4 separate regions of the Homo sapiens genome follow, and all the other regions are reported to be linked to region 4. The links are microRNA targets in miRTarBase. Many come from high-throughput screens and were not tested one by one. Region 4 holds a microRNA gene; each other region holds the end of a gene's coding sequence.
What was found. The annotated mature microRNA hsa-miR-509-3-5p reads UACUGCAGACGUGGCAAUCAUG and lies in region 4 at 2,382-2,403, opposite strand. An mRNA with a match to its seed (bases 2 to 7 or 8) in the 3' UTR can be bound and repressed. Matches are read on the target gene's strand: a 7mer-m8 pairs with bases 2 to 8, a 7mer-A1 pairs with bases 2 to 7 and ends in A, and an 8mer does both.

Region 1: miRTarBase lists SLC4A2 as a target of hsa-miR-509-3-5p. Seed matches in the 3' UTR shown: 8mer at 6,209-6,216.
Region 2: the mRNA of CRK is a reported target of hsa-miR-509-3-5p. Seed matches in the 3' UTR shown: 7mer-m8 at 4,605-4,611.
Region 3: the mRNA of CEP89 is a reported target of hsa-miR-509-3-5p. Seed matches in the 3' UTR shown: 7mer-m8 at 3,459-3,465.

Annotation. Positions count from the first base shown.
Region 1 is chr7:151,075,715-151,082,714 of GRCh38, reverse strand. It overlaps SLC4A2 (solute carrier family 4 member 2), which reads right to left. Exons shown (of 23, transcript NM_003040.4): 21 at 6,940-7,000; 22 at 6,529-6,702; 23 at 6,192-6,428. The coding sequence ends at 6,348. It overlaps FASTK (Fas activated serine/threonine kinase), which reads left to right and starts at 1,906. Exons shown (of 10, transcript NM_006712.5): 1 at 1,906-2,030; 2 at 2,793-3,215; 3 at 3,694-3,873; 4 at 4,014-4,153; 5 at 4,623-4,836; 6 at 4,935-5,094; 7 at 5,314-5,405; 8 at 5,479-5,614; 9 at 5,688-5,802; 10 at 5,883-6,091. The coding sequence starts at 1,949. The coding sequence ends at 5,990. TMUB1 (transmembrane and ubiquitin like domain containing 1) reads left to right here. Exons shown (of 3, transcript NM_001136044.2): 2 at 122-540; 3 at 815-1,630. The coding sequence starts at 152. The coding sequence ends at 1,166. RefSeq lists enhancers at 599-893, 1,611-2,586, 2,587-3,563, 4,540-5,515, 5,516-6,491 and 1 more and silencers at 1,492-2,171, 5,634-5,713.
Region 2 is chr17:1,417,634-1,424,787 of GRCh38, forward strand. CRK (CRK proto-oncogene, adaptor protein) reads right to left here. Exons shown (of 3, transcript NM_016823.4): 3 at 3,060-6,017. The coding sequence ends at 5,880. It overlaps CRK-AS1 (CRK antisense RNA 1), which reads left to right and starts at 6,953. Exons shown (of 1, transcript NR_198965.1): 1 at 6,953-7,032.
Region 3 is chr19:32,872,496-32,879,649 of GRCh38, reverse strand. CEP89 (centrosomal protein 89) reads left to right here. Exons shown (of 19, transcript NM_032816.5): 19 at 272-3,725. The coding sequence ends at 488. Among named protein-coding and RNA genes, the nearest start is that of SLC7A9, 6.3 kb to the right of the region's middle. RefSeq lists an enhancer at 3,609-4,494.
Region 4 is chrX:147,257,315-147,264,468 of GRCh38, forward strand. It overlaps MIR509-3 (microRNA 509-3), which reads right to left and starts at 2,412; the gene lies at 2,338-2,412. It overlaps MIR509-2 (microRNA 509-2), which reads right to left and starts at 1,536; the gene lies at 1,446-1,536. MIR509-1 (microRNA 509-1) reads right to left here and starts at 3,311; the gene lies at 3,218-3,311. The region is part of intron 2 of LOC105373347 (periphilin-1); the gene reads left to right.

The DNA of each region.
Region 1 (7,000 bases), not on the chromosome of region 4:
TGAGGGGACGGAGGCTGAGGACGGTGGGAGCGTCGCGGTGGGGTGAGGGCAGGACCCTGTGGAGGTTCCAGGGCTCCTGGCCAGGGGGCCCGGGCCTCACGGGCTCTTTGTGCCTCTCCAGCTCGGTAGCGCGGCGGGCAAGGCAGGCGCCATGACCCTGATTGAAGGGGTGGGTGATGAGGTGACCGTCCTTTTCTCGGTGCTTGCCTGCCTTCTGGTGCTGGCCCTTGCCTGGGTCTCAACGCACACCGCTGAGGGCGGGGACCCACTGCCCCAGCCGTCAGGGACCCCAACGCCATCCCAGCCCAGCGCAGCCATGGCAGCTACCGACAGCATGAGAGGGGAGGCCCCAGGGGCAGAGACCCCCAGCCTGAGACACAGAGGTCAAGCTGCACAGCCAGAGCCCAGCACGGGGTTCACAGCAACACCGCCAGCCCCGGACTCCCCGCAGGAGCCCCTCGTGCTACGGCTGAAATTCCTCAATGATTCAGAGCAGGTGGCCAGGGCCTGGCCCCACGACACCATTGGCTCCTTGAAAAGGTAAGTAGGTCAAGAGGCAGGAGCAATGCTAAAGACAGGGGTTGGGAGAGTGGTCGCAGAAGGCCCCCAGAGACACCTAAGACCCAGCCCTCCTTTATACTGGAGGCGCTGAGCGCCCCAGATCACAACTGTACTTGTTCCCCTGGCAGACGGCCCCTCCCAGGCCAGGGCCGGTGTGTTGTGGAGGGCAGGGGGAGGGTGGGAGTGCTGTTCCGGGGCCAGGGACTAGGATTGCCTGAGGCCTGCTCTCTTACCCAGGTCCCTCTCTCCTCAGGACCCAGTTTCCCGGCCGGGAACAGCAGGTGCGACTCATCTACCAAGGGCAGCTGCTAGGCGACGACACCCAGACCCTGGGCAGCCTTCACCTCCCTCCCAACTGCGTTCTCCACTGCCACGTGTCCACGAGAGTCGGTCCCCCAAATCCCCCCTGCCCGCCGGGGTCCGAGCCCGGCCCCTCCGGGCTGGAAATCGGCAGCCTGCTGCTGCCCCTGCTGCTCCTGCTGTTGCTGCTGCTCTGGTACTGCCAGATCCAGTACCGGCCCTTCTTTCCCCTGACCGCCACTCTGGGCCTGGCCGGCTTCACCCTGCTCCTCAGTCTCCTGGCCTTTGCCATGTACCGCCCGTAGTGCCTCCGCGGGCGCTTGGCAGCGTCGCCGGCCCCTCCGGACCTTGCTCCCCGCGCCGCGGCGGGAGCTGCTGCCTGCCCAGGCCCGCCTCTCCGGCCTGCCTCTTCCCGCCGCCCTGGAGCCCAGCCCTGCGCCGCAGAGGACTCCCGGGACTGGCGGAGGCCCCGCCCTGCGACCGCCGGGGCTCGGGGCCACCTCCCGGGGCTGCTGACCCTCAGCCCGCACTGGGAGTGGGCTCCTCGGGGTCGGGCATCTGCTGTCGCTGCCTCGGCCCCGGGCAGAGCCGGGCCGCCCCGGGGGCCCGTCTTAGTGTTCTGCCGGAGGACCCAGCCGCCTCCAATCCCTGACAGCTCCTTGGGCTGAGTTGGGGACGCCAGGTCGGTGGGAGGCTGGTGAAGGGGAGCGGGGAGGGGCAGAGGAGTTCCCCGGAACCCGTGCAGATTAAAGTAACTGTGAAGTTTTCACTCTTGCAGTGTGTCTGAGTGTGTGCGGGCTGGCGGGCGGGGAGTCCTCGCCCCTTGGGAGAGAAGGGCACGGACTGCGCCTGGGGTCTGGCCCTCCGCCTTCCCTTCTCCCCAGCGTTCTGCTCTGGCTTTGGCGCCGGCCTCCGTGGCCCCGCCCTCGGCGCCGGGCGCGCACTTCCCGCGGGCGGGGCTCGCGGCTCCCTGGCTCGCAGTGCCTGCCGGGAGCCACGTCTCCGAAGACCGATAGCTGCTTCGGGATTGGCGTCCGGGCGGCTATCTAGGGGCTGCTGGGAAGATGGCGGACTCGGTGGCTAGCCGATGAGGAGGCCGCGGGGGGAACCCGGCCCCCGGGCCCCGAGACCGACTGAGGGAGCGACCTGCGCAGGGCCCGGGGAGTCATGTAGGGGTGGCGCCTGCGGGGAGGGCTGCGGGAGGGCAGCGGGAGCTGGTGTTAGCGGCAGCGGCCACGGTCTCCTGGCGTCCCTGGGCCGGGGTGGGTGTTGGGGCCCCCGACTTCGCCGACTCCGCGCCATCGCAAAGCGGTGCACTCGGGCTCCACGCGCGCCCTGCGAGGTGGGCGCTGCGTTTTCATTTCACGGGTGAGGAGACTTAGAGAGACGAAGCCACTTGTCCAAGGTCACGCCGCTGGTGAGTGGGAGCGCCCAGCATGGAACCCAGCACCGTCCAGCCGCGGAGCCCGCGTTCCACCCTCTGTGCCGCCGCCGCCTCCTGTGGGAGAGGGAGGTGGTCGGGAGAGTGCACGCCGGTGCCGCCTGGGCTCCAGACTGGGCGCGACCACTAACCCGGTTAATGACCTCGGGCTTAACTTAACCCCTTCGCTGCTCTGGGCCTGCGTTTCTCCACCGGTGAAATGAGGTAATGCCAGCCCTGCCTACTCTTCATGGGCGTGTAAGGAGCATCAGAGATGGTGCATGTGGAATTGCTTTGCAAGTAGTGCTGCGCTGAGCGCACTGAGGATTATGATTGCTGTTTCAAAGGCGTGGAAGGAGGCAGAGGGGCGGGGTGGGGAAGAGGCCCAGAGCAGTCACAAAGGCTTGCTCTGACCACAGGCCCCCTAAATGAGGAGTGAGGTAAGCAGTAGGTAGCAGGTCTTTCTCCCCTTTGGAGAAAACCTCACCCCCTTTTTTGGGCTGCCCCTCAGGGTCTCCATCACCCAACTCCATGCTTCGAGTCCTGCTCTCTGCTCAGACCTCCCCTGCTCGGCTGTCTGGCCTGCTGCTGATCCCTCCAGTACAGCCCTGCTGTTTGGGGCCCAGCAAATGGGGGGACCGGCCTGTTGGAGGAGGCCCCAGTGCAGGTCCTGTGCAAGGACTGCAGCGGCTTCTGGAACAGGCGAAGAGCCCTGGGGAGCTGCTGCGCTGGCTGGGCCAGAACCCCAGCAAGGTGCGCGCCCACCACTACTCGGTGGCGCTTCGTCGTCTGGGCCAGCTCTTGGGGTCTCGGCCACGGCCCCCTCCTGTGGAGCAGGTCACACTGCAGGACTTGAGTCAGCTCATCATCCGAAACTGCCCCTCCTTTGACATTCACACCATCCACGTGTGTCTGCACCTTGCAGTCTTACTTGGTGAGGAGGGGCTTGAGGTGGGCGCCTGGGGGGCTAGGTGTTAATGAAGAATAGGGAGAACAGTAGAGGACCACGGACAGAGACCCAGCCTCTCAGGCGTTTGCCCAGGAACGCTTGCTCCTGCTCCCGTCCTATGTCTGCGGCAGACATCATGAGTCGAACGCACTCCTTCCGGCCTCGCTAGGGTGCCACCCCAGATTCCTGCTAATAGAGTGCCCTAGGAAGCCACCATAATTTGTCACAATTGGTATGAGATGAAAGCCTATTTGCCATCTTTGTATGTACTCCCTACAAACCGTTTCGATACCTCATAGCCACATGATACTTTACATGTCTCTAGTGTTTGCACTTAAACTCTAGCACACCTTCCCGCTCAGGAAACGGGAGAGGAGAAAGGTGGAGAATTCACCAAGTAACCCCATGATAAGAACAGCAGCACAGCTCTGTTACCAGGCTGCCTTTTACCTCTCCCCCTCAGGCTTTCCATCTGATGGTCCCCTGGTGTGTGCCCTGGAACAGGAGCGAAGGCTCCGCCTCCCTCCGAAGCCACCTCCCCCTTTGCAGCCCCTTCTCCGAGGTGGGCAAGGGTTGGAAGCTGCTCTAAGCTGCCCCCGTTTTCTGCGGTATCCACGGCAGCATCTGATCAGCAGCCTGGCAGGTGCTGGAGGGGGTTAAAATCAGATGGGGGTGGGGAGGGCTGACAGGAGGAGGAAGGTGGGCTCAGTTGGCTGGGCTGAGGTGGAATTGAGCCAGCCGGAGGTCCGGCTGAGGCCCAGCGTGACAGGCTGCTCTTCACAGAGGCAAGGCCAGAGGAACTGACTCCCCACGTGATGGTGCTCCTGGCCCAGCACCTGGCCCGGCACCGGTTGCGGGAGCCCCAGCTTCTGGAAGCCATTGCCCACTTCCTGGTGGTTCAGGAAACGCAACTCAGCAGCAAGGTGGGCTTGCCACCCACCCTCCAGTGCATCTCTGTCATTCTCAGGGACCTTGTCAGGCCCAGCGCCTCGTGCAGCTCGGCTATCCTTTTCCTGAAGCAGACACACCCTCTCTGTCCCCTGGGACCTGCATCTTTTCTACACCCTTTCTGTGGCTTGCCCACCTCCTGTCAGCAGCATGCATTCCTGGAAATCTGCAGTTTCCCAAAGCACTCTTAGCAGCATCCTAGCTCCACCCATCCCTCTCGAAGTCTTCAGGGCCAGACCCCACAGCGATGTCCCCTCTGCCTGTCTGGTGATTAGTCACGTGCAGCTCGTGACTGCTTTGCTGTTGAACTGTGAGGCCGGAGGGACTGTCCTGTCTTTACAGCAGTGTTGTAAACCTGAGGGCTAAGCCTCTCTAAGGCTTAGCTTGTAAAAGATGACTGCAGAAATACTTGACACTGGGTAATGAACTGCTCTTCCTCCACAGGTGGTACAGAAGTTGGTCCTGCCCTTTGGGCGACTGAACTACCTGCCCCTGGAACAGCAGTTTATGCCCTGCCTTGAGAGGATCCTGGCTCGGGAAGCAGGGGTGGCACCCCTGGCTACAGTCAACATCTTGATGTCACTGTGCCAACTGCGGTGCCTGCCCTTCAGAGCCCTGCACTTTGTTTTTTCCCCTGGCTTCATCAACTACATCAGTGGTACGCAGCCAGGATGGCTGGCTGGGCCCCTGAGGGCTGGAGAGGCAGGGGAGCAGGGTGGCCTGCAGCCCAGAGCCCCAGTCCCCGCCTCCCCACAGGCACCCCTCATGCTCTGATTGTGCGTCGCTACCTCTCCCTGCTGGACACGGCCGTGGAGCTGGAGCTCCCAGGATACCGGGGTCCCCGCCTTCCCCGAAGGCAGCAAGTGCCCATCTTTCCCCAGCCTCTCATCACCGACCGTGCCCGCTGCAAGTACAGGTGGATGGGGCAGCCTGGGGCAAGGGGAGGGGCCAGCCTGGGACCAGCAGAGTGGAAAAGCCAGAGGGACCATGAAGCGCCAAAGCTAAGGAGCTCTCGGCCACCATAAAACTGGGCCCTGAAGCAGCAGAGGGCTTTGCCCAGGGTGGTGGCACTAGACTGGGACAGATTAGGATGAGGTGCCGGGCCCTTCCTGCTACTGGTGTCCTTTCTCCTCAGTCACAAGGACATAGTAGCTGAGGGGTTGCGCCAGCTGCTGGGGGAGGAGAAATACCGCCAGGACCTGACTGTGCCTCCAGGCTACTGCACAGGTGAGCAAGGGGCAGGCGGCAGGCCCGGGGAGACGGAGCCCTGGCTAAGGCCGCCGGCCCTGCTCCCCTCCAGACTTCCTGCTGTGCGCCAGCAGCTCTGGTGCTGTGCTTCCCGTGAGGACCCAGGACCCCTTCCTGCCATACCCACCAAGGTCCTGCCCACAGGGCCAGGCTGCCTCTAGCGCCACTACTCGAGACCCTGCCCAGAGGTAAAGGAGGCAGGGTGGGGGAGCCCTGGCCACCTTGCCCGCCATGCCCTGAGCCACGTCCCTCCCCCTGCAGGGTGGTGCTGGTGTTGCGGGAACGCTGGCATTTCTGCCGGGACGGCCGGGTGCTGCTGGGCTCGAGGGCCCTGAGGGAGCGGCACCTAGGCCTGATGGGCTACCAGCTCCTGCCGGTGAGTGGCCCTGGCCTGGCCCGTGGCGCATCCTCACTCCCAGCCTGCGGGTAACCTGCCGCCCTCTCCTCTCCCCACAGCTACCCTTCGAGGAACTGGAGTCCCAGAGAGGCCTGCCCCAGCTCAAGAGCTACCTGAGGCAGAAGCTCCAGGCCCTGGGCCTGCGCTGGGGGCCTGAAGGGGGCTGAGGGGTTGATGTGGGGTTCAGGATGGCCCCCCCATGGGGGGTGGATGATTTGCACTTTGGTTCCCTGTGTTTTGATTTCTCATTAAAGTTCCTTTCCTTCCCCGTTGTGAATCTCAGTTTTGGGACGGGGAGCAGAGCTGAGTCCCCCGCCTCTTCCATTCATGCCCCGCCCCCCATACAAAGACAAAAGGCCACAGATAGGTGGGGGCCAAAGCACTTTACTGCAGGGGCAGTGGGGGAGGAGAAGACTTTAAATTATTCACTTAAATAAAAAGGAGGGAGGGGCATGGGAGGGGGAACCCCATCCCACCAGCCTGTCCCCTCGTCCATCGGTCCCTCGGCTGTCCCTCGGTGGCGGCTACACAGGCATGGGCATCTCATTGTACTCGTCCACACCCTCCCGCTCATCAAACACCGGCTCTGCCTCGTTAGCATCCAGCTGTGTGTGGGGAGGTGGCGGTCAAGAAGGGAAGTGGGGGGGCCTTTCCAGATCCACAGGGAGGCAAGAGGAACCGGGGGAGGCAGACGGGAGGGCTTACACATTTCATCTCTCGGTCGGTGAAGATACGGGTGAGCACCACCATGCGGAGCGGCACTGTGAGGATGAGGATGAAGGGGAAGGCCAGGGAGGCAGCTGTGGACATGACGGCCCAGAGCAGGGCCAGGCAGAGCAGCTGCAGGGCCGTGAACAGGTGCATACGGAGGGTCCGGACCTGGGGGGCGGAGACAGGTGAGCCCAGCTTCCTCCCTAGCCTGCTGCTGGGAAGAGCCTCTCTCTTCTTCGGAGGCGGGGATGGAAGAACATTCCTAGGTGCCAGAGCTGGGTTGGTACAGAGAGGAGGTGGGGGCTGGCTGAACTGGGCAGATGGGAGGGGGCAGCTGGAGAGTGACCCAAGTAGACCAGGATGGCCAGAGGCACACCCCTTCCGGTGGGGAGCTGGGGGGCTCACCTTCTTGACGTAAGTGACATCTGGGTGGTGTTTGGGCGGCATGAGCAGCAGATGCAGCCGC
Region 2 (7,154 bases), not on the chromosome of region 4:
TGGGATTAAAGGCACCTGCCACCACACCTGGCTTTTTTTTTTTTTTTTTTGAGATGGAGTCTCACTCTGACGTCCAGGCTGGAGTGCAGTGGCGTGGTCTCGGCTCACTGCAAACTCCGTCTCCCAGGTTCAAGCCACTCTGCCTCGGCCTCCGGAGTAGCTGGGACTCAGGCGTCCGCCACTACACCTGGCTAGTTTTTTGTATTTTTAGTAGAGATGGGGTTTCACCGTGTTAGCCAGGATGGTCTCGATCTCCTGACCTCATAATCCACCCGCCTCGGGCTCCCACAGTTCTGGGATGAGGCGTGAGCCACCGCGCCCGGCCTGCTCTGTTTTTGAGCTTCACTTCTAGATGGCTAAAGGTTCTTTTTTGCCTCTACCTTATCTCCCATTTCACAGTCTTCAGAACATGGGTGGCAACAGCACGCCACTTTCTCCGCCTCTCCCTGTCAAACTTAGCAGGGTTAATGGTTATTTTCACATTTTCTTCTATACCGGCCCCCTCTCATCTTTTCATACCTGTAAGAGGAACAGAATTTAACCTGGAAGTCCAGGTCATAAAATACGACAGCTGGTATGAATACTGTAGACTATATAAAAGAACACGCCATTCAACAGGGTTTTTTTTGGTTTTGGGTTTTGTTTCAGACAGGGTCTTACCCTGTCGCTCAGGCTGGAGTGAAGTGGCACAATCTCACTGCACCGTCAGCCTCTTGGGTTCAAGCAACTCTTCTGCCTCAGCGGCCTAAGTGGCTGGGATTACAGGCGCACACCACCACACCCAGCTAATTTTTTTTTGTATTTTTAGTAGAGACAGTGTTTCACCACGTGGGCCAGGCTGGTTTCAAACTCCTGATCTCAAATGATTCCACCACCTAGGCCTCCCAAGTGCGAGGATTACAGGCATAAGCCACTGTACCTGGCCTGCTTTCAGGCCTTTATATGATTCTTATGGTCCCCTCAAATCAGTATTTTATGACTCATACTCATGGAGACCTTTAAAAATATCACCAGGCCAGAGGCCGGGCGCAGTGGCTCACGCCTGTAATTCCAGCACACTGGGAGGCCGAGGCGGGTGGATCACCTGAGGTCAAGAGTTCAAGACCAGCCTAGCCAACATGGTGAAACACCATCTCTACTAAAAATACAAAAATTAGCAGGGCCTGGTGGCGTGCACCTGTAATCCCAGCTATTCGGGAGGCTGAGGCAGGAGAATCGCTTATACCCGGGAGGCAAGGTTGGAGTAAGCTGAGATCACGCCACTGCCCTCCAGCCTGGGGCACAAGAGGAAAATTTTGTCTTGAAAAAAAAAAAAATCACGAGGCCAGGCGCGGTGGCTCACGCCTGTAATCCCAGTACTTTGGGGGGCCAAAGTGGATCACCTGCGGTCAGGAGGTTTGAGACCAGCCTGGCCAAAATGGTGAAACCCCATCTCTACTAAAAATACAAAAATTAGCCAGGTATGGTGGCACGTGCCTGTAATCCCAGCTACTCGGGAGGCTGAGGCAGGAGAATCGCTTGAACACAGGAGACAGAGGTTACAACGAGCTGAGATAGCGCCACTATACTCCAGCCTGCACAACAAGAGTGAAACTCCGTCCCCGCCCCCCACCCTGCGCCCCGCCAAAAAAAAAAAAAAAAAAAAAGGCCGGATACGGTGGCTCATCCCTGTAATCCTAGCACTTTGGGAGGCTGAGGCAGGCGGATCACCTGAGGTTGGGAGTTCCAGACCAGCCTGACCAACATGGAGAAATCCCGTTTCTACTAAAAATTCAAAATTAGCCGGGCATGGTGGCGCATGCCTGTAATCCCAGCTACTCGGGAGGCTGAGGCAGGAGAATTGCTTGAACCCAGGAGGTGGAGGTTGCAGTGAGCCAAGAACGCAGCACTACACTCCAGCCTGGGCAACAAGAGCGAAACTCCATCTCAACAAAAATAAATAAATAAATAATTAAAAAAAAATCTGTGTCTATATATATCACCATTGATTAATCCCATCTTTTTTTTTTTTTTCCCTGAGATGGAGTCTTGCTCTGTCACCCAGGCTGGAGTGCAGTGGCGTGATCTCGGCTAACTACAATCTCCACTTCACAGGTTCAAGTAATTCATCTGCCTCAGCCTCCCGAGTAGCTGGGACTATAGGTGCACGCCACAACGCCTGGCTAATTTTTGTATTTTATTGATTGATTAATTGAGACAGAGTCTCGCTCTGTTGCCCAGGCTGGAGTACGGTGGTGCCATCTTGGATCACTGCAAGCTCTGCCTCCCGGGTTCAAGCGATTCTCCTGCCTCAGCCTCCCGTGCAGCTGGGACTACAGGCGCGTGCCACCACGCCCGGCTAATTTTTCGTATTTTTAGTGGAGACCGGGTTTCACCATGTTAGCCAGGATGGTCTCGATCTCCTGACTTTGTGATCCACCCACCTCAGCCTCCTAAAGTGCTGGGATTACAGGCGTGAGCCATCATGCCCAGCCAGATTTTAGTATTTTTAGTAGAGACGGAGTTTCACTATGTTGGCCAGGCTGGTCTCGAACTCCTGACCTTCTGATCCGCTCGCCTCTGCCTCCCAAGGTGCTGGGATTACAGGCATGAGCCACCACACCCGGCCTAATCCCATCTTTAATAAGCACCCACTGAGCTTGTATAATTGTTTATCTAATTATATGACTGCAGGCTGCTGAAGGCACATACCTCCTATCCCCTAAGCATAAAGATTTACCTCTCGCTGGGTGCGGTGGTGGCTGAAGCCTGTAATCCCAGCACTTTAGGAGGCGGAGGCAGGCGGATCACCCGAGGTCAGGAATTTGAGACCAGCCTGGCTAACATGGTGAAACCCCATTTCTACTAAAAATACAGTAAATTAGCTGGGCGTGGTGGTGCATGCCTGTAACCCCAGCTACTCGGGAGGCAGAGGTAGGAGAATTGCTTGAACGTGGGAGGCGGAAGTTGCAGTGAGCCGAGATCGCATCACTGCACCCCAGCTTAGGTCACAAGAGCGAAACTCTGTCTCAAAAAAAAAAAAAGATTTAGTTCTTTTGTGAAAAATATTCAAAGATTACTTTTTTGCAAAAGATCACCAAGCCAAACATTTGGCCATATTTTTATTTACTACATATACTATAAACATATACAATACATGCTACCAAAAAAAATTTTTTTTTAAATTTAACTGTCAAGAAAGTGTATAGTGTTATAATACAATGGCACATGTTTATATTTTATTTCAAATTGGTTTGCTTATCACCTATTTCAAACCATTAACAGTGAAATGTTACTTGTGGATAATTAAAAATTATCTATTTGCATTATTAACAATAAACAATTCCAACAAATTAATAAGAATTAACCATGTCAAATATTAGTATTCAAAAAATGGGATTTGCAGAAATGATTATATAAAATATAGCAGCCAATTTCAGTTTACTTTGCCAATAGGATTTCAGCATTTGCTTTTTTTTGGAAGACACTTATAAGACATCCTTTGATTTCTTGAGGGGCATTAACTGCCACACTCAACAGTCAAATCCAGCCCAGTGGTTCATGAACGGCCCTGGATCACTGATCACTGAGGAATCCTTAGGACTTGAGTAGCGCTGCCTGTTCCACTGATATTACATATGATGAAAAGAGACATTACAAGCCAATATCAAAGTCAAAGGAAAAGAAAATAGGAACATTCAAATCAGTTGTGACAAGGTTTTTCTACAAGTATTTTTGATGCCATACTTTCAGGAAAACAAGATTTAATGTGTGTGTGGACTTTACAGTATCTACGTTCTAACTGAAAATTTAACAAAGCAGTCAGATGGAATTACATGTAGTATTACAAATGTGTTCATTCAACACTAATGAGCACCCACTCTGTGCATAGCACTGGGCTACCATTTTACAAGTTGAGTTTAACGTCTTTATCAAGCATGACCTTAGTGTGAGGTAAAATACATTAAATTAGCGTCAACGCGTTAGTCTGCTTGCGGCCATGTACGGAATCCTGGGCCAGCTGGCTTCCCTGTGCCACGTCACCGGTTTCTCAGGTCTCCTCATTCACTCAGACAAATACGTGCACACTGACTGTGTGTCAGACAGTGTGCCGGTCACTCGGACACCACAATCTGGTATAGGTTCAAAGAATGTAAATTTATCATTTTAACCTATGCAGAACAATTAGAAAGGCAGATTATTTTTCCAAAATGAGGTCCAAAGCAAACTATAAGGTGTTTCTATTGGTCATACCACACCAGAGACCGGTAAGTGCCTTTATAGACTGAGAACTAACGTGGAAGTTTCATGCTGTCGTCTAAATAGCCTAGGTCATTTTTGGTCTCATAGGTCTATTTTGTGGAGCACCTGACCCCATATAAATCATTCCATACTTAAATGGGTTTGTAAACTAAACCTGAACATAAACAAAGAGCCAAAAATGAAGGCAGTTTACAATGTAATGTTCTTCAACAGCATTACTCTCCCCATGAGAAATGAATAATACATAAGTAATTCACAATTGGTTCAACATTTTTTTTTCTTTTTTTTTTCCTTTTTTTTTTTTTTGAGACTGAGTCTTGCCCTGTCGCTCAGGCTGGAACGCAGTGGTGCGATCTCGGCTCACTGCAGCCTCCACCTCCCAGGTTGAAGCAATTCTCCTGCCTCAGCCTCCCGAGTAGCTGGGATTACAGGCGTGCACCACCACGCCGGGCTAATTTTTTATATCTTTAGCAGAGATGGGGTTTCACTATGTTGGCCAGGCTGGTCTCGAACTCCTGACCTCATGATCCACCCGCCTCGGCCTCCCAAAGTGCTGGGATTACAGACGTGAGCCACCGCGCCCAGCCGGTTCAACATTTTTTCAAAGCACTAACCCTACCCCAAATTCATGTAATACTAACTTGACTTTTATACAAGTTGCACAGAATGCAGAGGGCAGAATTTGACCCCAAAACCTTCCACAGAATATCAGAGGTGATTGGTCCTTCCACTCTTGAGTAGAACCTAAGAATTCCAAGAGTCTCCTAATAGGATACTGGCCCTCTGGAGAAATGGCCCTGCTGGATCCCATTAGTTAGGACTCTAGTTAGCTGCTGTAGAAGGGTGACCTACTACGACCCTTTTGGGGAAGGCAGAGAGCTGGGAGACTGGCTGTCCACTTAGTGAATCCAACACTGGCTTAAAGCTATGCACTGAATAAAGTGCTCGGTACATCCTGCTTTTCACCTGGAATGAAAATACACACTTATCTTAGGAATTCACCTACTTACAGGTTTGGGGGACAAGAATGTCAAGGGCTAAAAGAATCCCAAGAAAAAGTATGAAGCATTGACTAGGAGGGAACAAATGCTTCTAGTAGTGTTCTTAGAATTCTTAGGATCTGAAATGTCAGAATGAGTCACACGCTGGTCATGCTCCATACAATGAAAGCAATCCTGCTTGATACTATTCACACGGTGCATGATTACTTCACGGGGGTGGAACGGAACAGTCTGTCGCCATTTGATAGTATGGTTCCAGAATGAAAACAAAACCACTGAATAAATCAGGGTAAGCAGTGTGTAACACTCCTTCCTGTCCATCGGTTTTCCACAGGGTGATTTGCACTGCCTGAGAGAAAGGAGGCAAGATACCTATCCCTTCTGATACACACAGGCACGACCACTACCGCCTCCAATTGCCAATTCAGAAGCTAACACACAAGCCCTCCAGTTCGTACCCTGAATATGGTAATTAAGACTAGGAATGGAGCAGTTCAGTCTAAAAAATATCACAGGTAACAGAATGCTTATATAAACTAGACTGCTTTTGACATCTGTAAGAAAATTGTATAGATGGCAGTTGGAAAAAAAAAAAAAAGATTGTTCCCATCTGTCAGCAAAACTGTTGAACTATACTCAGCTGAAGTCCTCATCGGGATTCTGTTGATCCAGCAGACGGACATGTGTGAATGGGAAGTGACCTCGTTTGCCATTACACTCCCCTTCCCACTGACCACTCACATTAATCTTCGTAACCTTTACCAGCTCACCGACCTGCAGGAGGAGAATAAGGAGAGCACTTTATTTCCAGGTAGGAATGCAAGCTGAACAACTCCATTCTCTGGTTAGGCACACCCTGCCCATGTGACTGCTCTAGGGATATTACAGAAATGGCCATTTGCTGCCTCCCCAGCCCCAGCCACCAGACTGATTACTTGTGGTTAATGCAGGCAGAAGGAAAAGTGTTTTTAGCAGTGTGGAAAAACAGAGAATACAGAAAGTAAAAGGGATTCCAGATAATGATACTTTTTGATTAAAAAAGGAAAGTGATAATTATTGGAAATCTCAGCTGTCTCTGCATGAGCAATCCCAACTTCAGTGAGTTAGCTACTATTCCCTTTCTTTGTACTCACTACCCTCAGCTTTCTGCCTGCTCCGCAGGCCCTGTCCGAGGAGAAGCAGCTTTCTCCGTTTTTTTTTTTTTTTTTTTTTGAGACGGAGTCTCTGTCACCCAGGCTGGATGACAGTGGCGTGATCTCAGCTCACTGCAAGCTCTGCCTCCCAGGTTCGAGCAATTTTCCTGCCACAGCCTCCCGAGTAGCTGGGACTACAGGCGCCTGCCACCGTGCCCAGCTAATTTTTGTATTTTTAGTAGAGATGGAGTTTCACCATCTTGGCCAGGCTGGTCTCGAACTCCTGACCTTGTGATCCACCTGCCTTGGCCTCCCAAAGTGCTTGGATTACAGGCGTGAGCCACTGTGCCTGGCCGCCTTCTCCCCGCTTTAGCATATGGCAGCAGCACAATCCCCCAGCCCACTCGCACAAGACCTGGCCTGTTACTGCTTGCACAGCAGAAAGCGATCATGGCAAGCATAGGTCACTTGGTCCTAGAGAATCAAGTGTTCCTATCACCTCCTGACCCAGGCAAGCCTTTTCCCATATGGGCAGGTAGAGGCCAAAACTCCAGGTCCAATTAGCTCCCAGAAAACCCCCACCTCATTCAGTAAGCTCTACTTCACAAGCCACTGCCTGCCCAGCCCCCAAATCCCACCATCGGACAGACCTTGCTGCTCCCTCAAAGCCGCTTGTTACCTGATCATTACCCAATGAGGGGTCAAAAAAACCAACCATGGCCGGGCGCAGTGGCTGACGCCTGCAATCCCAGCACTTGGTGAGCCTGACACAGGTGGA
Region 3 (7,154 bases), not on the chromosome of region 4:
AGAAATGCCTGTGCCGTCCTGCTGCTCCCCATTCCCAGGGCACTGGCCGCTTCATTCCACACTGAGCCCCAGCCTGGGCTGTCCTGCTGCTCCCCATTCCCAGGGCACCAGCTGCTTCATTCCACACTGAGCGCTTGCTTCAGAACCCAGGCACCGAGGGCTCTGTTCCCTGCTGATAGCGTTCTTCTGTTTTGAGTTCTTGCTACTTTGGGATTCATATGGGCTCTATATTATTTTTAAAATTGTGCCATTTTAAACTTATTTCCCTCAGAGAAATGGAAGGTGAACTTGAAGTTATTTGGGAATCTACCTTCAGGGAAAACCGAAGAATCCGAGAACTTCTCCAGGACACACTCACGAGGACAGGCGTGCAGGACAACCCCAGAGCTCTGGTTGCCCCCAGCCTCAATGGCGTCTCTCAGGCAGACCTGCTGGACGGCTGCGATGTCTGCTCCTATGACCTGAAGTCTCATGCCCCCACCTGCTAGAATCTGCGGGAGCCCGTGGTGTAGCCTCCTCTGGCCTGAAAGGTCTGCCTCACACAGGCCTTCCCTGCAGGGCAGCCCATGGTGGCAGCCGGAGGTGCGTAAGCCCACTGAACGCTGCAGGGCAGGGAAGAAATAAATGGTCTCATAGTTTAATCCATTGATAACATTTTGCTTTATTTTTTAATTTTTTTTTTTTTTTAGAGCTAGGGTCTCACTCTGTTGCCCATGCTGGAGTACAGTGGTGCAATCATAGCTCACGGCAGCCTCAAACATGTTTGAGATCCTTCTGCTTCAGCCTCCTGAGTAGCTGGGACCTCAGGTGTGCACTGTCAGGCCCAGCTAATTTTTTTCTTTTTTGTTGAGATGAGGTCTTGCTATGTTGCTCAGGCTGGTCTTGAACTCCTGGCCTCAATCTGTCCTCCTGCCTTGGCCTCCCAAAGTGCGGGAATGACACGTGTGAGCCACTGCGCCTGGCCCATTGTGCTTTATTTTAATAACGTGCTGCTGAAATCTGTTTTAGCCAGGGCATGTTCTCTGGCCACATTGCCACTGAGATGAGTTCTATGACACCCACTGCTCTGGTGAGTAGGTGGCCTGCTGAGCAGGCCTGCCTTCCAGCTCCTAGATCTGCAGCTGGGAAGTGCTGGAAGGGTTGGGCGGGCAGCTGAGCCCTCGTGCCATGTGTCAGATGGGGAAGTGTCACCCGAGGAGCCAGGCCATGGCACCGGCCCTGATGATAGCTGTGCGTGAGCTCTGGGGGCCTTTTCTTGTTTGGTCAAAAAAAACAAGGTGCTGCTGCTGTTCATGCCCTCTAAGTTGTACAAACCTTTTCTGCCCTCTCCCCTAGCCCTTCTCTATCCTCCTGAGCAAGTACTTTATTCTCTTTTGTTTAGTTGTTACTTTTGTTTGTTTGTTTTGAGACAGGGTCTCACTCTGTTACCCAGGCTGGAATGCAGTGGTGCAATCACCACAGCCTTGACCTCCAGGCTCAAGCGATCCTCCCATCCCAGCCTCCTGAGTAGGTGAGATGACAGGTATACACTAACATGCCTGGCTAATTTTGTAAAAAAAAAATTTTTGTAGGCCAGCCATGGTGGCTCACTCCTGTAATCCCAGCACTTTGGGAGGTCGAGGCAGGCGGATCACCCGAGGCCAGGAGTTCGAGACCAGCCTGGCCAACATGGTGAAACCCCATCTCTACTAAAAATACAAAAATTAGCTGGGCATGGTGGTGGGTGCCTGTAATCCCAGCTACTTGGGAGGCTGAGGCAGGAGAATTGCTTGAACCTGGAAGGCGGAGGTTGCAGTGAACCAAGATCACGCCATTATACCCCAGCCTGGGCAGCCTGGGCAACAAGAGCGAGACTTTGTCTCAAAAAAAAAAAATTTTTTTTTTGGTAGAGATGGGGTCTTGCTATGTTGCCCAAGCTGGTCTCAAACGTCTAGCTTCAAGCAATCCTCCTGCCTAGGCCTCCCAAAGTGTTGGGATTATAGGTATGAGCCACCGCGCCTGGTCTGGGAAGGTAATTGATTCTGGAGCCACACAGCTCCCCACCCATGTAATGAGAGCCCTGGCTTTGAGCTAAGATAGAGTCCCTGCCCCACTGCCACCACCAAGAAGCATACCAGGGGGCCATGGTTCTGTCCCATGTGTGTTAGATGACGTGCCACCTCCTCAGGAAAATTACCCCAGCCGCTCAGGACCATTCAGTCCCAGGCATGCTGGAGGGACTTGGGGACATTGGGCTACAAAGGACCCTAACTGTGGGACTCAGGGGTGGCACCCTGCAGCATCTCCTTTTCAGAGCCCCTCGCAGTGAAGTCCTGCCTTGTTTCAGGTGGGAAGGAGGCCCCAGTACTGGTCCTTGGTCATGTGTAGAAGTTCTACGTGTGATCTTTGATTGCCAGACGGAAGGGTGAGATAGAAAATCATAGTTCTTTTATGACTCTATAAGCTTGTTCAACAGTTGAATCATTGTAATTTAATTTTATTTTACAAGCGGTAGAAAGACTCACTGGGATTGAAAACTGTGTATCATCTCCCTAGGAGATGACCTAACAAATAACTGTGATGCTATTTCAAAGGCATTTACGGCCGCTCTGCAGCCTCCTGTAGACAGGCTGACAGGCGGCGGCAGCCCAGCGTGGCTGCGCGGGGCAGGAGTGCTTGTCAGCAGGAATGCTGCTCCCGCCATCGTGACCTAGAGAACCACTGTTGACATCCCTGTCTTTCTGCCTTTTATGCAAACATTTTATTCTTTTGAGAAGTGTCCACTTTTGTTCTTATGTTTCTGCTTTAAGTTTTTCACACAGTGCAAACATACTTTGCAAGTATGGGGACTCCTGGATGGCACTGTGACCAGGGCAAGGGCAGGTGTCCCACAGACACTATCTTCTGCCCAGCCTCCTGCTGGGTGCCATAGGAAATGGGCAGAGAAGCCACGAGTCCAGGATGCCAAGGAGGGCGGGGCAGGCAAGGCAGAGAGGCACCTGGGTGCTTGTGAGATTCCAGGAAAGGACAGAAACATTGGGGTGCTTCTGGGAGGAACTGGCACGCCCCGGCCCTTGCAGAGTGGACAAGGTTTCAGGAGCTACAGAAGGGTGGAGAGGGCCCCCAGGAGCACAGCAGGCACTCAGAGCAGCAGGAGGGGGTTTGGTCAGAGCTTGGGTGGGAAATGAGGCCGGACTGCACAGAGGAGAACTGGGTCTGCTGGGAGGGGCTCCTCCTTCCCCATGCTGCAAGTGTCTGGTCTGAGCAGGGAACCCTTCTCTTTCTTGGTCCTGGTGAGGTTTCATACGGCATTGGAAGATTCCTGGTCAAGCAGCTGTAGAACATGACCCAGGCACGCGAGTGAGCCTTGCTGGCTTTGCCATTATTTAAAAGCAGCCCTGGGCATGGTGATGGCGCCTATGGTTTCAGCTACTCAGGAGGCTGAGGTGGGAGGATCACTTGAGCCTGGGAGGTTGAGGCTGCAGTGAGCTATGATCATGCCACTGCACTCCAGCCTGGGCAACCAGGTGAGACCCTGCCTCAAAAATAATACAATAAAAAGTAAAAGCAGCCCTGGGGAAATGGAGACAGTGGACAAAGCAGGCTGGGGCACCAGGTGTGCATGTGGGTGTGAGTCTGTCATGAGAGCTGTCCTGAATGCCCTTAACGCCACTGAACTGTATGCTGGAAAACAGTGACAACAGTGGATTTTGTTATATAGACAATTAAAAAAGAAATAACACCCAGGCCTGCTTCCTGAGTGTTTGTGTCATTTTACTTTCCCACCACCAACCTCCGCGCAAGTTCCGGTTGCTCCGCATCCTCATCAATGCTTGGTGGTGTTGTCAATAACTGTGTTGAGAGGACAGAGATTTAAGGCCGAGGGTGGCCTAGCATTTAGCCTCGAGCGCAGCTGTCACTGGCTCCTCACCCCCTCCCCTACCTGTATCGTTGGCGGGAATGAAAGGCACAGTCCCCAGTGTGGGTGGCTCAGGAGAGCCCTCCCTGGGCCCAAGCAGCTCTTCCAGCAGGGAGGGCTTGAGCCGGATACAGATCCCACAGCAGGAGGCTGAGCCTCTTGGGATGGGGCTGGGCTGACATCTGAATTCTTGAGTAAGACTGGAAACATCATCCACTCAAAACTTGGCTGGGCGGCATGGGGAGGGCTCAGTGTGCCCAGGTTTGTGGCACCTCTCTGCTGGGTCACAGCTGGGCAGGGGTCCACAGGTAAGGAGTGGCTGCAGCCAGGAGTGGGAGAGGGGATGGGTACAGCTTGTTAGGCCTCTCTTGGTTTTCTCAAGGTGTGAGTCCATGGCCCCAAAGCTGGGCAGGAAACCTGCTGCCCTTCCAGCCTCCCAGGCTTGGCTTTTTTTTTTTTTTTAGTTGAGACAGTCTCGCTCTGTCACCCAGGCTGGAGTGCAGTGGTGCGATCTCGGCTCACTGCAACCTCCACCTCCTAGGTTCAAGCAATTCTCCCACCTCAGCCCCCCGAATAGCTGGGATTACAGGGTGTGTCTCACCACGCCCATCTAATTTTTTTTATTTTTAGTAGAGACAGGGTTTTGCCACGTTGGCCAGGCTAGTCTCAAACTCCTGACCTCAAGTGATCCGCCCACCTCAGCCTCCCAAGGTGCTGGGATTACAGGCATGAGCCACCATCCCCAGCCTCAGGCTCGGCTCTTTTCCTCATTTTTGACTAGGGGTGGACTGGGTAGGAGGGTTTTGGAGAGAAAGAAGAAGGGCGGCTTTTGTAGTTGATATTCACCTGCAGGGCCCCGCTGGGCTGCTTTGCAGGCCCAATGTCTGCAAACAACAGGACAGAGGTAGTGAGGACCCAGGCTGGGCTATGGAGACTTCAAACCTACGGAGCGCATGAGGCTGCTTCCTGGAACTGGGCATGCCACCTGCTACTGAGGACCCAGGCTGGCTCCCCGCGTCTGTGCTGGGTGCTCTGGGCCGCCATCCCCTTGTTCCACAGTCCACCCGTGTGTCAGCACTCTACAGAGGGTATAGATGAGACAGGGAGAGTGCACTGAGGTGACAGCATTGCTGCCTTGGGTCATCAGGAGCCTGGAGCATCTATTTCACCTGGTCAGGAGGGTCCTGAGTATTTTATTAAAGAATAATTCTTTGAAAGTGAAGGGTCTGTGTGTAGTATATGTAGCATACCAGGGCTGGGTTGCAAGCAACAGAACTATACTGCCCAATGTTAAGGGAAAGAAGGAAATATTTTGGAAATGTACACTCTGTGGCTTCCACCATGTTTTGAGAAGGACAGAAGCTGGAATAGCCTTGGGGTGAGGGTCTCAGTAGTTGAACACCGTCAGCCTACCCTGTGCTTCACTCAGGTAGCAAATCCTGGGAGACAATGGCCTCTTGGCTGACCTGACATCCTGAGCCCTCCTGTGTGGCCAGAGAAGTGAGGTCTTTTGGTTGGTAGCCCACCAGTGTCCCACAGAAAGGGACAGTTCCCCCCAAGTTGTGGATGCTGGGCAGACAGAAACAAGATTACAAAAAATGGTAACTTCCTATGTTAGAGTCTCCATCTGTCACCCAGACTGGAGTCCAGTGGCACGATCGTAGCTCACTGCAGCCTTGAACTCCTGGACTCAAGCAGTCCTCCTGCCCCAGCCTCCCAAGAGTAGCTGGGACTATAGGTGCACACCATCATGCCTGGATAATATTTTTAAATTCTTTTCGTAAAGACAGGCGCTCGCTATGTTGCCCAGGTTGGTCTCAAACTCCTGGCCTCAAACAGTCTCCCTGCCTCGGCCTCACAAAGTGCTGAGATTACAGGCGCACAGCCACAGCACCCGGCCCCCAAAATAGTAACTCTTTATTAAAGATGTTTGATGACACAGAACCCTCTTTCCCCAAAATCAGCAGCGATCACAACTTTCATCATGTGTGGCCACCGTGGTTGAGAAAAGAGGCAGCGACCATGAATCGTGACGAGGTCGGTGGGGAAGGGAGCAGGATGGGAAGTCGTGTTTTGACAGCATGCTGCAACTGTCTTCCCCACGCAGGTTATTTAATGCAAAACCATATTACTTGGAACACATAAAAATGATGGACAAAGTTCGAAGGCAGAATTGTACTATTCCAATAGTTGTTGGATATATATAGATTGTTCCTAGATAAGAGTTTTGAAATTATGTTTATGCTTTCCTTGCTAATTGTTTTATGGCTAGACAGCACGTCCCTGACATCGAAAGGCTTTGCACATCGCTAACTCATCACAAGTTCTTCTGGTTGGAATTCAGGTAGTAAGGGAACAAACAACTCTTCTATCTGTGGTAGTATGCCAGTTATTTCTGTCTTTTGGGTCCCCCTCCAAATCCCCAACTGCTACCGTCAGCAGCAGTGGGAAGGAATACAAGACCGAGTGAACTTAATGAATAGGAGAAGGTGAAAACTTGAAGGCAGGTCTGGAACAAGCTTTCAGCGGTAAAGGAAGATTCAGCCTCTGCCTGAATGTTTGCCCAAGACCTTGCCTCTGTCACGAGGACAGTGAATTAGAGAACAAGGCACCCAGCTGGGCAGCCCAGAGGCTGTGCAGAAATGGACTGACACTATGGGATTAAAGACGTCTTTAAAACCATCACAGGAGGCCAGGTGCAATGGCTTACGCCTGTAATCTCAGCACTTTGAGAGGCTGAAATGGGAGGATCACTTGAGCCCAAGAGGTCAAGGCTGGAGTGAGCCATGATCACGCCATTGCACTCTAGCATGGGAGCAAGAGACCCTGTCTCAGACACAAACCATCACAGGAGAAGGAAATGTTGGGGCTCAGGACACACCACCCCCAAAATATGACTGTAGGAGACTAGATATATATCACCCCAAATTATACTTCTTTGGAATATTTTGAGCTGGTTATTCTGAGAAACTGCAGACACAACAGGTGTAGCTCTGAAAAGCTGCCCTTTGCAAAAGAAATGTATGTCATGAAGGAAATCTACATTAGTACAAGTATCTGTACCAGGAAGAGACAACTTTTATTACCTGAGAGACTTATATCTGCATAACAAGACGACCTTTATTCGCCATGCATTTCCTCCCCTCACCATCCCATTACTAGTCCCTACCTGCCCCAGAAGCCCCAAGCCCCTAATCCTTATATAGCTCAGGATGCTATATAGGGTTTAGTCATCTGGCCCTTCTTCAAGTCTCTT
Region 4 (7,154 bases):
TACAGCATTAAAAGCATAATGCATACATTGAAAAACTGTTAAGTCGTACTTTATCAAAATTGAAAACATTTGCTCTGCACAAAATACTGTTGAAAATGAAAAAAACAAAACAGATTGAGAGATAATATATGTAAATCATAATTCTGGCCAAGAAATTGTATGCAGTATACCTATATATCTCTATCTATATGTATATAGTAAACCTCAAAGATAAGTGAACAACTCGGTAAAGGTGAGAAAAATCCCAAAGGCACTTCACCAAGGAAGATACATGAATGGTAAGTAAGTACATGTACAGGTGCTCAACATTTTCCGTCAGTAAGGTGATGCAAATTAAAACCACAACTGACAAGGGAACTATACACATATTAAAATTGCTAATAAAAACAAAACAAAGGCTTTTCAATACAAAATGCTGATAAGAAGTTGGGTAATTGGATCACTAATACATTGCTTAATGCAGCACAAAATGGTAAAACCATTCTGGAAATTATTTTTTAATTAATTTTAAATGTAAACTTACACTTGCCATGTGACCTTCAAATCCTACTAGTAGCAGTTTACACAAGGAAAATGAAACTTGTGTTCATATATACATCTGTATGCAAATATACAAAGTAGCTTTATTTTTAGCCATGAATAACTGGAATAAAACCTAGATGTCCACCTGTGACTTCTACCCTACTTGATTAAAAAAAAAAAAAAAACAGATTATTCTTGCTCTAATTCTGACTCTCATTCTCTCTCCTTTACCCATTTTCTGCTTCCATACACCCTCTCTCATCACTGAATGAGAAAGAAACAACATAAAGGAAGTAAATGAAAACCTAGAGATAAAAAATGTTTTTAAGTAAATGCAAAAAAATCAAACAATAAAAAATTCTCAGCATTATTCACAATTCCTGATATATGACTTACTAATAATAGATTAAAATATATTTACAAAAGAACGAATATGTACTTTATTAGCACATGAAGAAAGAGGACATTTTATATCTGAGATAGAATATATTTTGATTTTCAGAAGGTTAAGTGTTTAAGAAGCAGGAGGGAATTTTGGAAAGCTTAAGAAGACTTGAAAATGAGAAAGGAAGCTAACAGTTAACAGATTTGGATGTTGGAGTAGGCAATAGTTTCTGCAAAAAGAATAATACTCTTAAGGCAGAAAGAAACTGTAAAATGGCAAGATAAACCTTGGTTCAATCAGGCAACATCATAGAAATGGAAATCAATCTCAGAAGAACTCAATGGGAGGCTTGTTGCAAGGACCTTAAATTCCTAGATCACGTGTCTGGTGGTCAGGCACCTGAGAGAGTTTTCTGAGGTAGTCCAGCATGGAAGTGGAGGGTTTGTGAGGGTAAAATACCTGCACTGTAAGGAAAGCATCCCTCTGCATGCAACTAAATGCCTCCAACACACACACAGTGTCATCATGTATGTTGCACGTGTCATGCAGTACTCTACCCACAGACGTACCAATCATTTTTAATTATACATGATTGCCACTGTCTGCAGTAGGGTACCACACACAGCATGTCTGAGGATGGCAGCCTTGCCTTAATACCCACCCATTCACCTTTAAAACAACCATTCAATATTTACAAGCTGTGCGTGGCCATTGGAATTTGGACGAAGGACTTCTGCAGAATTCAATCCACTATCTTTCCTTATATTTCCCGCTTTGAGTCCTGTCCACTCCCACGTTGCATCTTTCACATGACAGTTTTCAGAACTGAGAAATATTAAACATTTCTGTTAGGTTCTGTTACTCACAGAAGAAATATCCTTGCATGTCTTATCCTGTTCCTTATAATAGATTAAAATGTATTTACAAAAGAACGAATATGTACTTTATTAGCACATGAAGAAAGAGGACTTTGTATATCTGAGATAGAAAATATTTTGATTTTCAGAAAAGTTAAGTGTTTAAGAAGCAGGAGAGAATTTTGGAAGGCTTAAGAAGACTTGAAAATGAGAAAGGAAGCTAACCATTAATAGATTTGGATGTTGGAGCAGGAAACAGTTTCTGCAAAATGAATAATACTCTTAAGGCGTAAAGAAACTGTATAATGGCACAATAAACCTTGATTCAATCAGGCAGCATCATAGAAATGGAAATCAATCTCAGAAAAACTCAATGGGAGGCTTGTTGCAAGGACCTTAAATTCCTAGACCATGTGTCTGATTAGGCACCTAAGAGAGTTTTTTGAGGTAGTCCAGCATGGAAGTGGAGGGTTTGTGAGGGTAAAATACCTGCACTATAGGGAAAGCATCCCTCTGCATGCAACTAAATGCCTCCAACACACACACAGTGTCATCATGTATGTTGCACGTGTCATGCAGTACTCTACCCACAGACGTACCAATCATTTTTAATTATACATGATTGCCACGTCTGCAGTAGGGTACCACACACAGCATGTCTGAGGATGGCAGCCTTGCCTTAATACCCACCCATTCACCTTTGAAACAACCATTCAATATTTACAACCTGTGAGTGACCATTGGAATTTGGACAAAGGACTTCTGTAGAATCCAATCCACTATCTTTCCTTATGTTTCCTGCTTTGAGTGCTGTCCACTCCCATGTTGCAGCTTTCACATGACAGTTTTCAGAACTGAGAAATATTAAACATTTCTGCTAGGTCCTGTTACTCACAGAAGAAATATCCTTGCATGTCTTATCCTGTTCCTTATAATAGATTAAAATATATTTACAAAAGAACGAATATGTACTTTATTAGCACATGAAGAAAGAGGACTTTGTATATCTGAGACAGAAAATATTTTGATTTTCAGAAAGTTAAGTGTTTAAGAAGCAGGAGGGAATTTTGGAAGGCTTAAGAAGACTTGAAAATTAGAAAGGAAGCTAACCGTTAATAGATTTGGATGTTGGAGAAGGAAATAGTTTCTGCAAAATGAATAATACTCTTAAGGCAGAAAGAAACTGTAAAATGGCAAGATAAACCTTGGTTCAATCAGGCAACATCATAGAAATGGAAGTCAATCTCAGAAGAACTCAATGGGAGGCTTGTTGCAAGGACCTTAAATTCCTAGATCACGTGTCTGGTGGTCAGGCACCTGAGAGAGTTTTCTGAGGTAGTCCAGCATGGAAGTGGAGGGTTTGTGAGGGTAAAATACCTGCACTGTAAGGAAAGCATCCCTCTGCATGCAACTAAATGCCTCCAACACACACACAGTGTCATCATGTATGTTGCATGTGTCATGCAGTACTCTACCCACAGACGTACCAATCATTTTTAATTATACATGATTGCCACTGTCTGCAGTAGGGTACCACACACAGCATGTCTGAGGATGGCAGCCTTGCCTTAATACCCACCCATTCACCTTTAAAACAGCCATTCAATATTTACAAGTTGTGGGTGGCCATTGGAATTTGGACAAAGGACTTCTGCAGAATCCAATCCACTATCTTTCCTTATGTTTCCTGCTTTGAGTGCTGTCCACTCCCATGTTGCAGCTTTCACGTGACAGTTTTCAGAACTGAGAAATATTAAACATTTCTGTTAGGTTCTGTTACTCACAGAAGAAATATCCTTGCATGTCTTATCCTGTTCCTTTTCACATTGCTACTTGCAAAGCATTAACTACCAGTTTGCATTCTCCATATCCATTAATTAAGTAGTAAATAATCCTCCATCTCATCAATCTCATATGATAAGGTTTGGCTCTGTGTCCCCACCTAAATTTCATCTTGTAGCTCCCATGATTCCCATATGCTGTGGGAGGGACCCAGTGGAAGATGATTGAATCATGGGGGCAGGTCTTTCCTCTGCTGTTCTCATAATAGTGACTAAGTCTCATGAGATCTGATGGTTTTAAATATGGGAGTTTTCCTGCACAAGCTCTCTATCTTTGCCTGTCGCCATCCATGTAAGATGTGACATGCTCCTCCTTGCCTTCTAACATGATTGTGAGGCTTCCCCAGCCACATGGAACTATGAATTCTCCATTAAACCTCTTTCCTTTGTAAATTGCCCAGTCTTGGGTACGTCTTTATCAGCAATGTGAAAATGGGCTAATACAGTAAATTGGTACCAGTAGAGTGGGACACTGCTGAAAAGATACCTGAAAATATGGAAGCGACTTTCGAACTGGGTAACAGGCACGGGATGAAACACTTTGGAGAGCTCAGAAGAAGACAGGAAAATGTAGGAAAGTTTGGAACTCCCTAGAGACTTGACTTGTTGAATGGCTTTGCCCAAAATGCTGATAATGATATGGACAATGAAATCCAGGTTAAGGTAGTCTCAGATGGAGATGAGGAACTTGTTAGAAACTGCAGCAAAGGTGACTCTTTATGTTTTAGCAAAGAGACTGGCAGCATCTTGCCCCTGCCCTAGAGATCTGTGGAACTTTGAACTTGAGAGAGATGATTTAGGGTACCTGGCAGAAGAAATTTCTAAGCAGCAAAGCATTCAAGAGGTAACTTGCATGCAGTTAAAGGCATTCCATTTTATAAGGGAGGCAGAGCATAAAAGATTGGAAAATGTGCAGCCTGACAATGCTATAGAAAAGAAAAACCCACTTTCTGAGGAAAATCCAAGCCAGCTGTAGAAATTTGCATAAGTAATGAAGAGCCAAATGTTAGTCCCCAAGACAATGGGGAAAGTATCTCCATGGCATGTTAGAGGTCTTCGTGGCAGCCCCTCCCATCACAGGCCTGGAGGCCTAGGGGGATAATGTTGCTTTGAGGGCCAGGCCCAGGGTTCCTGTGCCGTGTGTAGTCTAGGGACTTGGTGCCCTGTGTCCCATCCACTCCAACTGTGGCTAAAAGGGGTCAAGGTATAGCTCAGGCTGTGGCTTTGGAGGGTACAAGCCCCAAGCCTTGGCAGCTTCCATAAGCTGTTGAGCCTGTGGGTTCACAGAAGTCAAGAACTGAGGTTTCGGAACCTCCACCTAGATTTCAGAGGATGAATAGAAATGCCTGGATCTCCAGGCAGAAGTTTGCTGGAGAGGCAAGGATCTCACGGAGAACCTCTGCTAGGACAGTGCAGAAGGAAAAGCTGAGATCACAGCCCCAACACAGAGTCCCTACTGAGGCACTGCCTAGTAGAGCTGTGAGAAGGCCACCATACGCCAGACCCCAGAATGGTAGATCCACTGACAGCTTGCACTGTGTGCCTACAAAAGCCACAGACACTCAACACTGGCCCATGAAGACAGCCAAGAAGGAGGCTGTACCCTGCAAAGCCACAGGGGAAGAGTTGCCCAAGACCTTGGGAACCTACCTTTTGCATCAGCATGACCTGGATGTGAGAAATGGAGTCAAAGGAGATCACTTTGGAGCTTTAAGATTTGACTGCCCCACCAGATTTTGGACTTGCATGGGACCTGTAGCCCGTTTGTTTTGGCCAATTTCTTCCATTTGGATTGGCTGTATCTTCCCAATGCCTGTACCCCCAACTATATCTAGGAAGTAACTAACCTGCTTTTGATTTTACAGGCTCTTAGGTTGAAGGGACTTGCCTTGTCTCAGACAAGACCTTGGATTGTGGACTTTTTAGTTAATGCTGAAATGAGTTAAGACTTTGGGGGACTGTTGGGAAGGAATGATTGTGTTTTGAAATATGAGAACATGAGATTTTGGAGGGGCCTGAGTGGAATGATATGGTTTGGCTCTGTGTCCCCACCCAGATCTCATCTTGTAGCTCCCCTGATTCCCATGTGTTGTGGGAGGGACCCGGTGGAAGATTGAATCATGGGGGCGGGTCTTCCCTGTGCTGTTCTTGTGATTGTGACTAAGTTTCACAAGATCTGATGGTTTTAAAAATGGGAGTATTCTAGTGCAAGCTCTCTCTCTCTTGGCCTGCCACCATCCTTGTAAGATGTGACTTGTTCCTCCTTGCCTTCTGCCATGATTGTGAGGTTCCCCCAGCCACATGGAACTGTGAGTTCTCCATTAAACCTCTTTCCTTTGTAAATTGCTTAGTCTTGGGTATGTCTTTATCAGCAGTGTGAAAACTGATTAATACACCATATCTGTCACCTGAAGATATGAGTCCCTCTAAGTCTTGAGTTATGCACCTCAACTACTGAGACACAGAATAAACAAGAAAAACACACATGATCCTGGAATTAAAGAATAGAATAATCAGTGAATGATGAGATAAAGAGAGCAGAAATTTCCTTTCTTCCTCAGCAAGTAATGTGTAAAAAGCCCATTTTACTTATCAGGAGTAATCTACAAGATTAAAACTATACCTGTTGCCTAAGGATGCCCTCAAATTCTTTCCTAGGTTTTCAGGGTCTTTTCTTGGAACAAGTTTGTTTTGAGCATGCTATTGTATTTTTCCATTCTGAGATATACTACATAGTGTATGCATCTCCGTGGAAAAACTGAACCTGGTACATCAAGCTATGGGTATATAAATATGATGAATGAATGCCAGAGGATGAGGATTGAGGAGTTTAGGTGACTGTGGCCTACAAAAGGAATTTCCTTCCAGCACCCAATAAGTGCTATGGTATATTCATGGAAGTCATAGGCTTTCGGCATTTCTCAACCATCCCACACACCCAGCTTAATGGCTCGGAGACAAAACACCATGTGTACGTGGTAAGAAGTCAGGGGCACTCTTCCAATGCTCAGACCACTATTCTAGAGTGTACTGCAGATGCAGCATATGAAAACGTGGTCTACAACCACTGATAAGCAACATGCTCATAAAGCAGAAGTGTCCCTGTGAGGGAAGGAAGCCACTGCCCTTAATGCCATCTCCGGCTCAGTGATTCTAAGATTTTGCCTAGTGTGAGATGCTGGCCTAATATAGAATATTAAAGCTCTCCCTAAAGTAGGGGTCCCCAACCCCCAGGCTGTGGACCAGTACCAGTCCATGACCTGTTAGGAACCAGGCCACACAGCAGGAGGTGAGTGGTGGGCAAGCAAGCCAGCATTACTGCCTGACCTCCACCTACTGTCAGTTCAGTGGTAGCATTAGATTCTCATAGAAGCAAGAACCCTATTGTGACCTGCCCACGTGAAAGATCTGGGTTGCACACTGCTTATGAGAATCTAATGCCTGATGATCTGAGATGAAACAGTCTCATCCCAAAACCATCCCCTCCAACCTGGTCTGTGGAAAAATTGTCTTCCATGAAACCAGTCCCTGGTGCCAGGAAGGTTGGCG